Homo sapiens: one gene and its partner. The protein of the gene in region 2 interacts with the protein of the main gene of each other region in a biochemical or structural test. Each region holds a gene or a part of one and is shown on either strand. Other genes may lie near its edges.

What was found. Proteins that work in one complex are often made in the same cells at the same time.
Region 1: the proteins of PEX2 (region 2) and PEX10 form a complex in vitro, tested with the Homo sapiens proteins (one study listed by BioGRID).

Annotation. Positions count from the first base shown.
Region 1 is NC_000001.11:2,409,465-2,416,810, reverse strand, and holds the start of PEX10 (peroxisome biogenesis factor 10), read left to right. Parts: upstream 1-4,246; 5' UTR 4,247-4,308; coding exon 4,309-4,420; intron 4,421-6,359; coding exon 6,360-6,440; intron 6,441-7,346.
Region 2 is NC_000008.11:76,996,802-77,004,692, forward strand, and holds the start of PEX2 (peroxisome biogenesis factor 2), read right to left. Parts: upstream 3,278-7,891; 5' UTR 3,189-3,277; intron 1-3,188. UniProt on the Homo sapiens protein: E3 ubiquitin-protein ligase component of a retrotranslocation channel required for peroxisome organization by mediating export of the PEX5 receptor from peroxisomes to the cytosol, thereby promoting PEX5 recycling.

The DNA of each region.
Region 1 (7,346 bases), on a different chromosome or scaffold from region 2:
CCAACATCACTTCCCAGGCCAGCCCATGCCCACACCAACCCTCTGCACTCTGCACCCCTGTCCTAACCTCACCTGCTAAACCCTGGCCCAGGCACTGTTTCCCACGGAGGCTCCAGGAGGCCTTCATCCACCAGCACTTCCTGCCTCTGGCTGCCGGGCCCCGCCCTCCCCATCTTGGCTCTGGGGCCTCTGCCTGACTGTGCCCACCCAGGGCTCACTTCCCCTCCCTGGGCCCAGTGCCGCCCGCTGCCCACCCTCCCCAGCTCACACTCTGCAGGTACCTCCAGGTCCTGGGTCTGCCACAGACGGGTGGAGTGCGGCTCCCAGGGCCTCCAGCCAGGCAGACGAACCCGTTCTCCTGGTTTGTGGCTGGCACTGCGAGGGGCTTCCCGAGGGCCGCACCCTACAGTCCCTGTACTCGGGGCCAGCTTGTGGGTGGCCCTTCCTCAATCCCCAAACCCATGTATAGCTAAAGAGAAGGGAGGGGACACTGCCACACCCCTGAAGCCAGAACTGCCATGCTGGGCAGGAGCCACTCCCCTCAAGCAGCACCAGCGCCCACTTTGCCCACCCAGGGACCCCGACCTGCTGCGTCCAGCTCCTGGGCCCACCCTGCCCTCCTCGGGGTCCTGAGCGACCGCTGGGTGCCAGGCAGCAACCCAGGCACAGCAGTCCCCTGTTCCGGTGGTGCTCACACCCCACCAGAGGGGGCACAGGGGGCAGCACCTGCTGGTGCGTCAGATCACCTGCGGGGCTGCCCACCGCACTGGGTGTTGGTGGGGGGATGGGGATACGAACCGTGGGGCTGCACCCCGAGCTCCCTCTCCTCCCCGGCCTCTGAGCTCCCCACAGCACCGGAACTGGGTTTAGCGGAGGAGCGCAGGCCCTCCAGAGGAAGGATGTCGGACAACACACCTGCTGCTGCTGGGCGGAAGTGGGTGAGTGTGATGGGCGAGGCTGAGAACCCTGCTCCGGCGCAGGCTTCATCTGGGAGCTTGTTGGAAATGCAGAACTGGACCTCGTCCCAGGCCCATCCACCCAGACCTGCACTGTGACCAGACCCCAGACGATGTGTGCACTGGGCAGGAGCAAAGCAGGCTCTTAATAAATACCAGCTGATTATTACCCAGTCCCATTCCACAGACCAGAAGACGGAAGCCCAGGGGAGTTCAGATGGAATGGGTGTGAGAGCCCCCTGTAAATGGCAGGGCCGGCGGAGGGCACAGCAGGCTGCGGTCAGAGGCCAGCCAGGAAGCACTGCTGTGCAGCGTCCCCAGCAGCCTGGTTTTGAAGCCGGGCGGCACATAGGCTGAGTGGCAAGAGATGGTGAGGCATATCGGGGCTTATTGATTCAAGAGCAGGCTCCTCCAGAAGGATGTAAGGCGCTGCCAACAAGAATAACGCTCGGTTTAAAGGCTGTGGTGATCCCCTGCTGGGGCCAGGCACATGGCTGTCAAGAGACCCAAGACTGGGGCTGGGCCCTGTTGGCCACTTCTGCCCAATGCCTGTGGTTGCTCTCCCTAAAATCCACAGCCTTGGCCAGGCACGGTGGCTCACACCTGTAATCCCAGCACTTTGGGAGGCTGAGGCAGGTGGATCACAAGGTCAGGAGGTCGAGACCATCCTGGCTAACAGGGTGAAACCCCGTCTCTACTAAAAATACAAAAAATTAGCCAGGCGTGGTGGCGGGCGCCTGTAGTCCCAGCTACTCAGGAGGCTGAGGCAACAGAATGGTGCGAACCCCAGAGGCAGAGCTTGCAGTGAGCCAAGATCCCGCCACTGCACTCCAGCCTGGGCGACAAAGCGAGACTCTGTCTCAAAAAAAAAAAAAAAAGAAAAATCCACAGCCTCCACCTTCCTGACCTCGATCCCCAAAGAAGAGAGGGACAGAGTTTGTGAAAAGTCCCAAGGGCTCAAGAGGAGGCTGCCACAGGGAGGCAAGGGTGCTAAGCGGCAAACGCCCCCTCCCCTGGCAGGACCCCCATGCCCCACCCCAGAACCCTGGAACCAACCAGAGCTCCCAGGTTGCCTGGTCAGCCAGGAAGGACATGGAGACCTGACTCCCGCCCCACCTCCCTGAGACCCCCTCCAGGCGCTTCCTTCCCTCCGCTGTTTCGGGCAGATGGTCGCTCCACTTCGCCAGTGGTTCTGATCTAGATTCGATTCCCTTTGGGGCAAAACTCACCGCCTAATCCCCTATAACTCTACCGGGGAGCCCGGTGGAGAGCAGACGGGCTGACGCTGCCACCTGCCGGCCATCCCAGGATAGGACCGCCGTATTCAAGTCGCCCTCAGGAAGGACCCTCGGGGCACCAGAGGCCTTCGAAGCCCCAATGAGTGAGGCAACTGAGGGTCGCGGGTGCCATTACAAGGCCCAGCCAAGGCCTAGAGCCAAGGCTTGAACCGTGGGGGACCCCCAAGCCCCACCTGCCCAGGAACAGCAGACACTGGGACACTTTGTTTCAGGTCCTGCCCAGGCCCCTCCCACTGTGAGGCTGGGATTTGTCGCCCAGGGTGCAGATGAGAAGAGTGGGGAAAGCAGTCCTGAGCCAGGACAGCGGTGGGGGATGCCTCCTAGAGCAGGCCCTCCCGTCAGGGGCCCATCATAGAACCCAGTGTGAATCCAAAGGAGCCGAAGCCTCCTCCTCAGAATCAGACGTGGAGCCATGAACCCAGGGGCCAGAGCGGCATCTCAAACTGTTATCTAAGCATTGACCAGAACACATGATCACCTCAGCGGCTCCACGTGGGCGATGCCGGGTTGCCTGGTCCACGGATGAGGGGTTCAGCCCAAGGTGCTCAACCCAATCAGAGGGCAGCCTCTGTGTCCAGGAGACACGGGTGCACCCGCGGGGTCAGAACTCCAAAGGGGCGCGGGGGCGCTGGGAGGTTTGGTAGCCAGAGGGCCTGCGGGGCGGGGCCACCCAGGCCATGCCCCTTCCCTGTAAGAGGGGCCATTCCTGCAGTGTGGGGCTCTGGCTTTGTGACTGGGCTGTGCCAGTCTGGGGATGATCCCACAGCTGAGCTCCTGTAGATGGAACCAGAGGTGAGGCAAGGAACTGGAGGCCCTCCCCACTGAGGTCAGCGGGGCGCAGACGCCCCCTTGTCGTGCCCTGCCTTCCTCCTGCAATCCTGCAGGACTCTCCAGGGCCAAGTGCTGCCCTTGGGGCCAAAAAACAGGGCCTTCTCCTTCACCTGCCCTGCAGCCATTCAGGTATGTACCAGGCATCTCCTGCCCTCCCTGGCCAGGCGGCCCCAGAGGCACAGGCCGCAGACACCGCAGGCGACCTGCGTGGGCCTCCAGTTCCCGCCCCAGCCCTTCCCACCCCCAGCTCAGGGCAGGTCCAGCTGTGGCCAGCGGCTGGGGAAGGTTCTGTCCCCTCCAGGTGTGCGGCCTTGGCAAGTGCTTCAGGCCTCCCTCCGCTCGTCCCCTGGGAGCAGAGGGATCGGAGCGCCTGCGATGTGGTTCCCCAGAGCACCTGCGGGGCTCAGGCCAGGCAGGGTGGAGGGTGGAGGGTGGAAGGCCACCTTCCGCCCGTCCTGGAACCACGCGGCGGCTTCCCGGCTGCCCCCCACCCGCCAGGCCCTGCCTCCCGTGGGCACCAGGGGGGCGTCCACACCAAGCCGGCCGTGTGCTTTTCGCGCAGGATTACTGGGGAAGGCGGCTGCTCGGGGCCTGGAAGGTCCCGGGTCTCGCCTCGTGCCCCTCTGGCCCCCAAACCGACCGGCTCCCCGGAACTGGCCAACCCGCGCTGAGAGCCCGCGCAGCTCAAAGGGCGCGAGGGCGGGACCGCCGCGGCCGGCGCTGGGAGCTCGGCTTCCCGAAGACCCAAGCGAAAGCCTCCGTCTCCCCAGCCGTAAATGGGCCTGCAGCGTCTCCACTCCGCAGCGCTGTCCCCAGTGGGAGGGCGGCCCGTGGACGTGCAGGGAGCAGAGCAGGGGCCCCTGGCAGCGTAGGACCCCGAGGTCGCAGCAACCACGCGGCCGCGAGCCCATCCCGCTGCCTCGCCAGCGCCCCTCGCGCGTGCCCCGCCCCCACCTCGGCTCGCGGGCCCCGCCCCGCTCCGCTCCGCCCTGCGCCTCCGACTACCTTCCCGCTGCCCCGCCCCGCGCTGCGCTGGTTCGGACTCCAGCCCCGCTTCCGCCCGGGCCCTGGCCCCGCCTCCAGCCCCAGTCCGGCCCCGCCCCAGCACCTTGACGCAGAGGTCTGCGCCGCACGCAGAGCCACGTCGTGCCGTCATCAGTTCTCGCCCGTCTGGGCGTGGGCGTGGCCGGCGTGGCTGCTCGGGACCACCCGAACCCGCGGCCATGGCCCCGGCCGCCGCCAGCCCCCCGGAGGTGATCCGCGCGGCGCAGAAGGACGAGTACTACCGCGGTGGGCTGCGGAGCGCGGCGGGCGGCGCCCTGCACAGCCTGGCGGGTGAGGGCCGGGCGCGGCCGGACGTCCTCGCGAGCGGCCCAGGGGGTGTTGCCCCTCATGGAGGCGGGGTGTCTGCCGTGTGTGGTCACGGTCGCCTGGGCCCGTCCCACAACCTGGGACCCGGCAGTCTCCTTCGCCTGCCCTGCGGCCATTCAGGGATGTGCGGGGCACCTCCTGCCCTCCCTGGCCAGGTGGCCCCAGAGGCACAGGCCGCAGACACCGCGGGGGACCTGCGTGGGCCTCCAGTTCCCGCCCAAGCCCTTCCCGTCCCCAGCTCAGGGCAGGTCCAGCTGACGCCAGCGGCTGGGGAAGACTCTGTCCCCTCCAGGTGTGAGGCCTTGGCAAGTGCTTCAAGCCTCCCTCCGATCCTCCCCTGTGAGCAGAGGGGTCAGAGCGCCCGCGGCGCGAACGCCTCATACCTCGGTCCGGTTCACACTGACCCCGGCCTTTCCTAGGCCTGAGCAGCAGCCCAGGCCCCTCGCCCTGCTGACCCCAGTGTAGGCTCAGCCAGGCCCTGCCTGCCTCACCAGGCCGGGAGCTGAGTACAGAAGCCAGTGTACTCAATGAAGCAGCACCTGTCATCCCAGCAGTTTGGGAGGCAGAGGCGGGAGGATCGCTTGAGCCCAGGAGTTTGAAACCAGCCTGGGCAACATGGCAAGACCCCGTCTCTACAAAAAATCTGAAAATTAGCCGGACGTGGTGGCGGCGTCTGTAATCCCAGCTCTTCAGGAGGCTGAGGCAAGAGAATCGCCTGAGCCCGAGGGATGAGGCTGCAGTGAGCCATGATTGTGCCGCTGCACTCCAGCCTGGGCGACGGGGCCAGACCCCATCACCGATTAAAAAACGAAAAAAAAAAGATGCCGGGTGTGGTGGCTCACGCCTGTAATCCCAGCACTTTGGGAGGCCGAGGCGGGTGGATCACTTGAGGTCAGGAGTTCGAGACCAGTCTACACAACATGGTGAAACCCCGTCTCTACTAAAAATACAAAAATCAGCAGGGCGTGGTGGCGCGTGCGTGTAATCCCAGCTACTTGGGAGGCTGAGACAGAATCACTTGAACCCGGGAGGCGGAGGTTGCAGTAAGCCAAGATCGTGCCACTGCACTCCAGTCTGGGCAACAGAGTGAGACTCCATCTCAAAAAAAAAAAAAAAAAAAAAAAGGCAAAGCCATCAAGTCTTTGGGGGGTGGGGCAGGCAGTCGTTAAAGGCATGAACTCCCAGCAGAACGTTTCAGGGAGCAGTGGCACTAGAGCCCAGTGGTGGGGGTGTCGTGGCCAAAGGAACAGTGCCATGGGACAGGAAGAGCATGGGTAAATATCAGAGGACAGCCAGGCTCCGTGCCGGGAGGCCCATGGGTGTCAGGTGGGCAGCCATTGGTGGATTCTGAACAGGAGAGTGACATGATGAGAATTTTTTGTGTGTGTACTTACTTGTTTTACAGTACACTTGGCACTTACCCCTGTGCCAGACACTGTTCCCAGTGTTTTACAAATATTGAATCTTCAAACATCCCTCCAAGTAGGACTTATTACTCTTCTGATAGATGAGCAAATTGAGATTCCAGAAAGACCTCACAGCCAGCAAGTTGGAGAGCTGCTTTTTGATGCTAGACAGTTGGCCTCTGGCCTGTAATCTTAATACCCCAGACCATCTTTCCATGTGGCCCTCATAGGCCCTAGAACAGTTGCTCAGGGGAATCCCGGAGCAAGAGATGAGCACAGGTGGGAGATTCTTCGCAGACTGTCTGCAGCTCACGCTAAGGCAAGTCAAGGTGGTGCCTCCGGAGACAGAAGCAGAGAGGGAGGCCAGGGAGTGAGTGTTGGCTTCATGGAAGGGGTGGGACTGGATCTGGGCCTAGACAACTGGGGGAGGACTGTGGTCCCTCATCCTCAGAGGATGCCCACCAGCTCCCCCGGACTAATACTGTTTCTCCTCTCAGGTGCGAGGAAGTGGCTGGAGTGGAGGAAGGAGGTTGAGCTGCTCTCAGATGTGGCCTACTTTGGCCTCACCACACTTGCAGGTAGAAGCTCCCACGGGACCTCAGGACTGAGGGCAGCCACACACACCAAGTCTGGGGACGGTGGCCAGGGGGCTGCCAGGCAGTGTGAGAAGCTCCTGGAGCTGGCCCGGGTGAGGTTGCTTCAGGGAAGTGCAGGAGGTACTGCTCCGAGGGAGGCGAGGCATCTGCTCCCAGCAGGGAGCCGACTTTTCCAGCCTTTGTGTGTCCCTGGGGTTCTTTGTTTAAGACTTTACCCCGGGTGCCACTGAGACCCATTTCTCAGTGGCCAGCCCTGGTGGCACCAGTGAGTCACAGTGCTGAGCCATGTCATAGGGTGCAGTGCCCGTGTGACAGTGCCCTGGTGGAGCAGTGGTGGGTCTGTGGCCCAGGCTGGTCACCACCCTTTAGAGGGAGTTGTTGACAGAAGCTCTCAGGCTCCCAACCCCAGCTCAGCATGTAGCAAGGACCACCGAGTGCCAGCCTGGTTCCCTACGAGGGGCTCGCCCCGGGCATCCTGCCGCCATGGAGAGTGTGCTCGGTGGGCGGGAGACAGATGTGGCTGCGTCACAGAGCATCTTGGGAAGTGAGGGGCTCTCAGAGATAAAGACCACGTCTTAGGGAAGAGCATTTTCCAGACCGGCAGAGCAAGCAGCCGGGAAAGGCCCTGAGAAGAACACGTCCTTGGCGGTTTGGGAGAATGACCCCGGGGGGCTCGTGAGTTTTGTAAGCCCATAGCTTTCCCTGTGCGAGGCTTGGGGCATTCCAGGGACGTGGGCAGGGGAGAGGCCGACCACTAGCTAAGACCAGACCTCAGGGGACAAAGTTGGGCTCAGGGAGACTACAGAGGCTGTGACAGTCCCCCACAGGATGGTGGTGGTACAGAGCAGGGGCGGCAGCGAGGGGGTGGAACACACAGGGAAGGTGCAT
Region 2 (7,891 bases):
TTTCATTTAATCCTCACAACACAGTAAGTACAGTATTATCATCTCCATTTTAAGAAGATAAAAATTAAGGCTTGAGAAGATTAACAACCCATCTAAAGTCAAGCTGGTAATAAGTAAATTTATGGTAAACATCAGAAAAACTGTAGAACATACAAAATACACTTAGTAGAATGGACATTTGCTAAGCTTGGATCAAATTTAATCCCACAGAACTCAAAAGAAATCTTTTTCCCCTTCAAGATCATTCAAAAGACCAGACTGCCAGTCAAGCTGTCAGGACTGTAGATGGGGAAAGAAATTAAAGGAATGAGGTAAAGTTTTCCTTGTTGCTTGGGATGTATTTTGTCTATATTCCTTCTCCCTGCTTCACTATACATGTGGTCAAAGGACCATTCAAAGAACCATGTCAAATCTGAACAAAAGGAATAGATGAGTGAAAAACTCAAGGTGTGAACATTAACTATTACGAACACATACATGCAAGGTAGAGGTAATGCCAACTCATTCATCTAACACTAAAAGACAAGTGGGCCGAGGTGGGCAGATCGCCTAAGGTGAGGAGTTCAAGACCAGTCTGGCCAACATGGTGAAACCCTGTCTCTACTAAAAATACAAAAATTAGCCAAGTGTGGTGGTGCACACCTGTAATCCCAGCTACTCGGGAGGCTGAGGTAGGAGAACTGCTTGAACTCGGGAGGCAGAGGTTACAGTGAGCTGAGACTGTGCCACTGCACTCCAGCCTGGGCAACACAGCAAGACTCTGTCTCAAAAAAATGAAAAGACAGTGGTTAGGCATAATCAAAACACCATTACACTTAAGTTCTTGGTTGTTTTACTAGTAAGAAGAAAGAAAAGATAACTTGGATGGAATTTTATCTCATCTTATTGACAGGCAGTAATAAGGGAGATGTCTGATAAAAAGAAAATATATTAAATTGAGTAAGAAGCAACATAGAAGAAGGTATTTTTATTGTATAGATGGGAATATGTTAGGAAGAAGTCTAATATCCCACACGGAGAAAGGCAGAGGACACTAGACATCCCTTCTTTGCCTCCACTTCCATGTAAAGAAACTACAGGGCTGGGTTTAAAAGAGCAGGATTACAGACAGGGCAAATGGAGCAATTTAGGGCTTTTCTCCTGAGGTTTCTTGTACATTCCAAAGGAATAGAAAAGGAACATGAAACATTTACAAACTGTTATCACTTCACAGAAAAGAGGTACAGAGAACATCCAATTTGCTTCTAGGTTGTCCAACTCAGATCATCAAAAGAGGAAAAAATGAAATAATTCAAGAGAGAACTTCTGGCCAGAAATAAAGATTGTGTACATTCACACATTTTCCTTGTGCTATTGGAACCTGAGAATGTGGATGGTGTGCAAGAGGGAAAGAAACTTACAATTATTTGATGTTGTGAGAAAAACATGGGGCTAGGACTGAGCTCTTTTAATGGGTGTGATGATGAGCAAGCCTGCTAATACCTTTAACGTTCAGGTACCAAATATGTAAAATGAAAAATACTTGTCCTCCCTACGGCAAGAATCATTATGTGCATCAAATATAAGCAAAACTTTTATGGCTAAAATAAAAGGATATGGAGAAGAAGGAATAATAAATTCTAATTCTGTTCATAAAGAAAAACATTTCAAATTTGTATTGATAAAATAAATTGAAACAGAATAGGGACATATTTGTAGCTTTTAGAAATAAATTAGCTGTGAATATATTATTTTTAAAAACTGTAATAAATGTACATTGAGTACAAATGAATAATTATCCCAAAAACCAGAATTTTAATGCTAGAAGAAAAGGCAGATCATCTCGTTTAAGACATAAATTTAATCTTCTTAACAAGAACCTTGTTATTCAAGCGGAACACCTAAATGGCTGCTCTTGTTAAAATAAACCTGAGGGTGGGCTTGCTTTGTCTCTCCCTGCACGGCTCCAGAAAATTTCTACACAAGTTCTCCTATGGAACAGTTTTAAAACCCCAGCTTGAGTACTAACACTAGTTTCTAAAAATAAGGAGAATACGGCCAAGAGGTAAAATTGTACAAAGGCAACTAGAGTCAGGACTAGAATCCAACTGTCTTGATTTAGTCTAATACTCTTCAGTCTACTAGTCTAGTATTCGCTCTATGTCCTGTTACTTCTATTTTTTTTTTTAAGAAAAAAATATGAAGGGTTTTTTTTTTTGACTCTGTAAATAATTCTTTCAAATCTCTTTCTGGCTCAAGATCACTCAACTGTAATCTTTCTGGAAACAAGTAATTGATAATATAGGTGAGATCAGATAAGTTAAAAGAGCCACCCCAAGTTCATTCTGTTCAGGATTAAGTAAAGGTAACACTTTAGGGGAAGGTGTTTAGACTACAAGCTGCGGTGTTGTGAGCGCCCAAGTATCATTTAATTGTCCGAAACGTCAAGATAAAATATTTCCGAGGGGCATCACGGAAGTTTAACAGAATGTGTTAGACTTGAACGTTCAACAGCTTGCTCATTTTGCCAAAAGCCCTTTCACTAAATGTGGGAAATTTGGAAAATGGTACCTCAATAAATAAACAAACAACGATTTTTAATTTAAGAACCCAGGAAAAAATGTTAACAATTCTCACATTCAGATTTCTTATCAAAAGTCAACGTGAAATATAACTAATTTATCGCAAGCAATTTTATCAGAAACTTTTCATTATCTCTTCCTCCATAAGAAAACCAAACTGCATTTACGTGCGCTTTCAACAGTGTTAGAAAACTAAGCACTCAAATTTTTTGTACTACATATAACACTTTACATGAACTTTCAGATATTAAGTAAAGTTTGGATCCTCAATTCTTTATAAAGCCGTTTATAAGAGGTAAATATCTTCACGACCGCCAAATGAGAGAAAAAGATTTCGAAGTTCGTCTCTTAAGTTACTACGTGGAATGCAGAGGGGCTCAACTGCAGCTGTGTGTGTGTTTATTTTTAATGCCGCGATCCTAAAAACATCTTTAGGAGTTTAGGTTTGCTTCACTGCCTTTCCCAAAATTCAGCAGCTTTGATTTGCCTTTTCCAGGGAGACAGGAAGCCAATAAACAGGGAAAAAAAAGCAAACGGCGACAATTACAAGGTCGTGAAACTCCACGACCTCCCAGCTGAAAACAAGACCTCGGGTTTGCACTCCGGCTCTCTAGGGCAGACACTGACCTTAGGAGTCTGCGAAACGCCCACGCTCCACGTAACTTTCTCTGAAACATTCTCTGGAAAGCTTGTCTTTTCCTAGCCGAATCTGGATTACCAAGGCTTCCGGAACTCGCAGGCTTCCGGAGCGACGCAGGAGCCGGAAGTGGCTGAAAAAAAAAAGAAAAAGTTACACCAACGAGAACTGCGCTTTAGCGGCGCTGCTGAAGGCACTGGATGGCCAAACAACCGCGAACGCCGACAAGCCGAAGAGCCGAAGGGCCGAAAAGCCGAAGCGGACACCCGCGCGCGGTGATTGGCCGGTTGGCCGGAAGAACTCTGTCTCTGATTGGCAGGAGAGTCACGAACCGGTCAGCCCCGGGTCAGGGGCCGCAAGTGAGGACACTACAAGTGTCGAGGGGCCTAGGGGAAGCCGGGGCTTGGGAGGGCAGGGCTTTCTCTGCTTGCGGACATCGCGAAGGGCCTCTGGCAGGCGCCGCCGGGTGGCGGCGAGACGCCTCCGCGCCTCCGGGGTTCCTTGTTCGCTGTCGGAGGAGGACCGGCTGAGGGATGGCCTGGTGGGGAGGGAGCCCTCGGGCAGGTGGCTGCGTCGGGCCTGGGGCAGTTGTGCTGCGCTTGGAGACCTGCCCGCCCTCGGGGCCTGTGTGCACAGGGAGGATAGGCTGTTTATCTCTGCAGGCTCAGGAAGGCAGGTAGCTGGCCCGTCAGTCATCCGCCCTGCAAAGCGCTCCCGAGAGACCCCGTAGAGCGGGCCAGCGCGCGCCTGGCCTGAGGTTTCCCGCCCCCGGAGGCCCTCACATCTCCCCGGTAACGCTTAGGAATTCGGGCAGCCAGCTCGCCTACCCCTGGGGAATCGAGGCAGAGCTTCTGGGAATGGGGTCTGAGGGAAGAGTGCTCACCAGGCAGTGACATGTAGCCGTTGAGGATCGCCACTGCCTTCTCGTTCTGTGGTATGAATGGCAGTGTCTCTCTAGAGAGTTAGTGCTTAAGTTTGAATGATGGCAGGCACTTCAGGATTCCAGCACGTAGTAGGGTTTAAGAACGTCTTAGTTCTTACCTCCAGTCTCGACTCACCGTTCCTACAAGGAACACTCACTTCTACGAAAGCTCTATTAGACATTCGAGGGAGAGCTTATACTGTAGAACCAGTGTTATTAGGAAAGTTTTTTTTTTTTTGCTTGTATTTTTATTTCAGAAACTACCCATGGAGCAGAGTTGCTAAAATAAAATTTATTAACTCTAATGCTATCCAAATTGTGAAACAATGGTACAAATGAGATAGAGTAGAAGCTACAAATTGATAGAGTATGTAGTTCACTTAGGGGTTTGGGAGTGGATTTTCTAGAGCTGCAACTGTCCAGTGTAGTAGTCACTGGCCACCTGAAAAGTGGCTAGTCTGAACTGAGGTCTGCTCTAAGTGTAGAACATGCACCAGATTTCTAAAGCGTGGTCTGAAAAGAAAAAGAATGTAAAGTATTTCATTAATTTTATATTGCTTACATGTCAAAATGAGAATGTTTTGGAAAATTTTAAATTACGTGGCTTCCATTATATTTCTATGGATACTGCTGTTCTAGAGAGTAAAAAAATCTCACTGAAGAAGAGTAGGCCTTTCGTTTAGCAACTGTGAAGAAAACCAACCACGCTGCACCTCTCAGGTAGCCTACAGATGTGCTGTGCTTCACTTAATTTTTGAGAGGGACGGGGGAAAATACACACAAAGACTTGATTGACATAGAGGACATTTTCAGAAAGCAAATTCTGGTTCATAGAGCCTTATGTATGTCATGTGAACATCACACAGTAGCGAATGAAAATAATAAAGATATCAAGAAACTTGAATCATATTTAATGAATCTCATTAAGAATGCGGGGAAACATGCAACAGTTAAAATTCTGTTGAAATTGTTTAAAATAAGTTCTAGATTTTAATGTTTAACCTGTAGATACAGTATACCTTCTTAATTTTCCCATGAGCTGGTGAGCTGAGGTTCCAGGGAAGCTTTGTTTCCAGTTTTTTAAAGATATATTTATTTTTCATTCATTTATTTAACAAAAGCTTTCTGAGGCCCGGGAGTTTTGCTAGGCAGTGTTGATAAAAATGTGAAGACAGAAAACAGACACGGCTCTTACTCTCTCAGAGCTAATTCATATCAGTTCAGAGGCAGTGAATAAGTAAATAATAACCAAGACAGAATATTTTCTTCTTAGTAAATGTTTACCTCTGTAAATGCAAAACATGAGTTATTTTAAACCTAGAATTTATATATTTCTAGTGACATGTTAAGAGTCTTTATTAGAACTTGGCTGTGGACTTAAAAATATTAGGAAAAAAATCAAAGTTAATTTGTTCATTAACTATGAGAAGTTAAAGAAGAAAAATTAAAATTGTTTTTTTAACCTTTACATAGAAAAGATGGAAACATTTTATAATAGCATTTTATATCCTCTTTAGCCTTTTAGCAACTTTTAGATTCTAAGAATTTAACAATAGAAATGTAAATAAGACATTGATTTATGTCCCTAATATAGTTTTAAAATGCTGACTTTAAGAAGTTAAATTTATTCTAGAATATTATGTAGTTCCTAAATCAATATATTTGAGTCTTTTAGGAAAAAGTTAAGTATGGATCTTATATTAGTTTACCATTAATACTATTTCTGTAACAAAGTTAGAAGCTCAAACCACCACCAATTTATTACCTTACAGTTCTGTAGTCAGAAGTCCAACATGGTTCTCAATGGCCTAAAATCAAGGTGTCCACAGGATTGTGTTCCTTTCTAGAGAGGTAAGGGAAGAATCTGATTTTTTTTTTTTTTTTGCTTATTCAGGTTGTTGGACAAATTGAGTCCCTTGCTCTTGTAGCTGTTCTCCCTGTTTCTTTGCTGGCTGTCAGCTAAGAGCTGTTTTCAGCTTCTAGAGGCCACTCACATTTCCTTGGTTATGGCCCTCTTCGTCTCCAAAGCCAGCAATGGTGGATTGAGACCCTTTCATCCTTGTAAATCTTTCTTTCTTCTTCTTCCATTGCTGTATCTCTCCAATTACAGCCTTTTAAGAATCCATTGGTTAGACAGAATCTCCCCCGCTCAAGGTTCATAACTTTTATTTACATCTGCAAAGTTGCTTTTGCGGTAATAATGTAACATATTCACAGCTTACAGGGATTGGGGAATGGATATATTTAGGAGCCATTATTCTACCTATCTCAGATCTCAATTGGGGCCATGCAGTATATCCAGTGTTTCATACCACTATTCTCAATACTTTATGTTAGAATAATAATATTGATAATAGGTAAATTTTGTTGGTTATATAATATGCTCAAGGTACTTTTCTGAGCCCTTTTACTAAATTCACTCATTTAATCCTCAGAACTACCCTAGGAGGCAAACACTGTTATTGTTCCCACTCACAGATGAGGAAACAGGTACTGAAAGCTGAAGTAACTTGTCGAATTTCTCACAGCCATTAAATGGTGAAATGGAGATCTGAACCTAGGTAGTCTGGTTCCAGAGCCTGTGCATGCTCTGAAGCTCAACATAATAAAAATAATTTCTACATACCTGGATTTAACTAAACATGTGTTGATGATACAGTGGCTATGAATTCAGGTTCTGACATCACCTTGTGGATTCAAATTCTACCTACCCATTACTGAATGACCCTGGGCAAGTTACTTGACCTCTCTGAGACTTAACAATAAACTGAACCAATAATAATAGTTGAGAATTAAACAAATACTATATGTAAGGTACTTAGAGCACTGCCTCTACATACAGTCATTCATAACAATAGAGATACGTTTTGAGAAGTGCGTCATTAGGCTATTTTGTTGTGTGAACATCGTAGAGTGTACTTACACAAACCTAGATGATGTAGTCTACTACATACCTAGGCTACATGGGATAACCTTTTGCTCCTAGGCTACAAACCCGCACAGCGTGTTACTGTACTGAGTACTATAGGTAGTTGTAACACAGTGGTAAGTATTTGTGCATCTAACCATGTCTAAACATAGAAAAATTGCAGTAAAAATACAGTATTATAATCTTAGGGACCACTGTTGTGTATGTGGGCCATCATTGACTGAAACATCATTATGCAGTGCAAGCAATTGCTAGCTGTAATTATTGATGACAATTCAACTTTTAAAAACAGTATTTATTATAAAAAGAAATGTTTCCTTTAGAGATCAGTCTTTCCTTGTAAAATAAAAACTGAAAATTAAAATTTTTACTTTAATACACTACAGTGCTATCTCCTTTCTCAGACTCTGATTTCTCCTCACTCTAGGCTAGCATCTATCGTTCTAACCATGGTACCTTCAGTGTTATCTGATCATGCATTCTAAATACTTTGTCCAGATCCTAGTATCTGCAGGCTAATATTCAAACTCTCTAGAAGGGCACCAGGACTTTTCACACATTCCAGAGACTCTCTCTTGCCATTCCTCTGCTGGGTATTTACACAGCCATCAATTCTAACTTTTCACTGCTCTCGTTTGCTATTATTATTCTTTGAGGGAGACTTATGTGTGTGGAGGGGACTCTGGGGAGTATGGACAATGTCATATCCTGGGTCCCCTTCCATAATGCCTGCTAATACCACTCCAAATTCACTCTCTCTTTTAATAATCTTTCCTGCACTTGCCTTAATTCAAACCCTCATTATCCTTGCACTTTAAGCCATCTCTTAACAAATTGGTGGC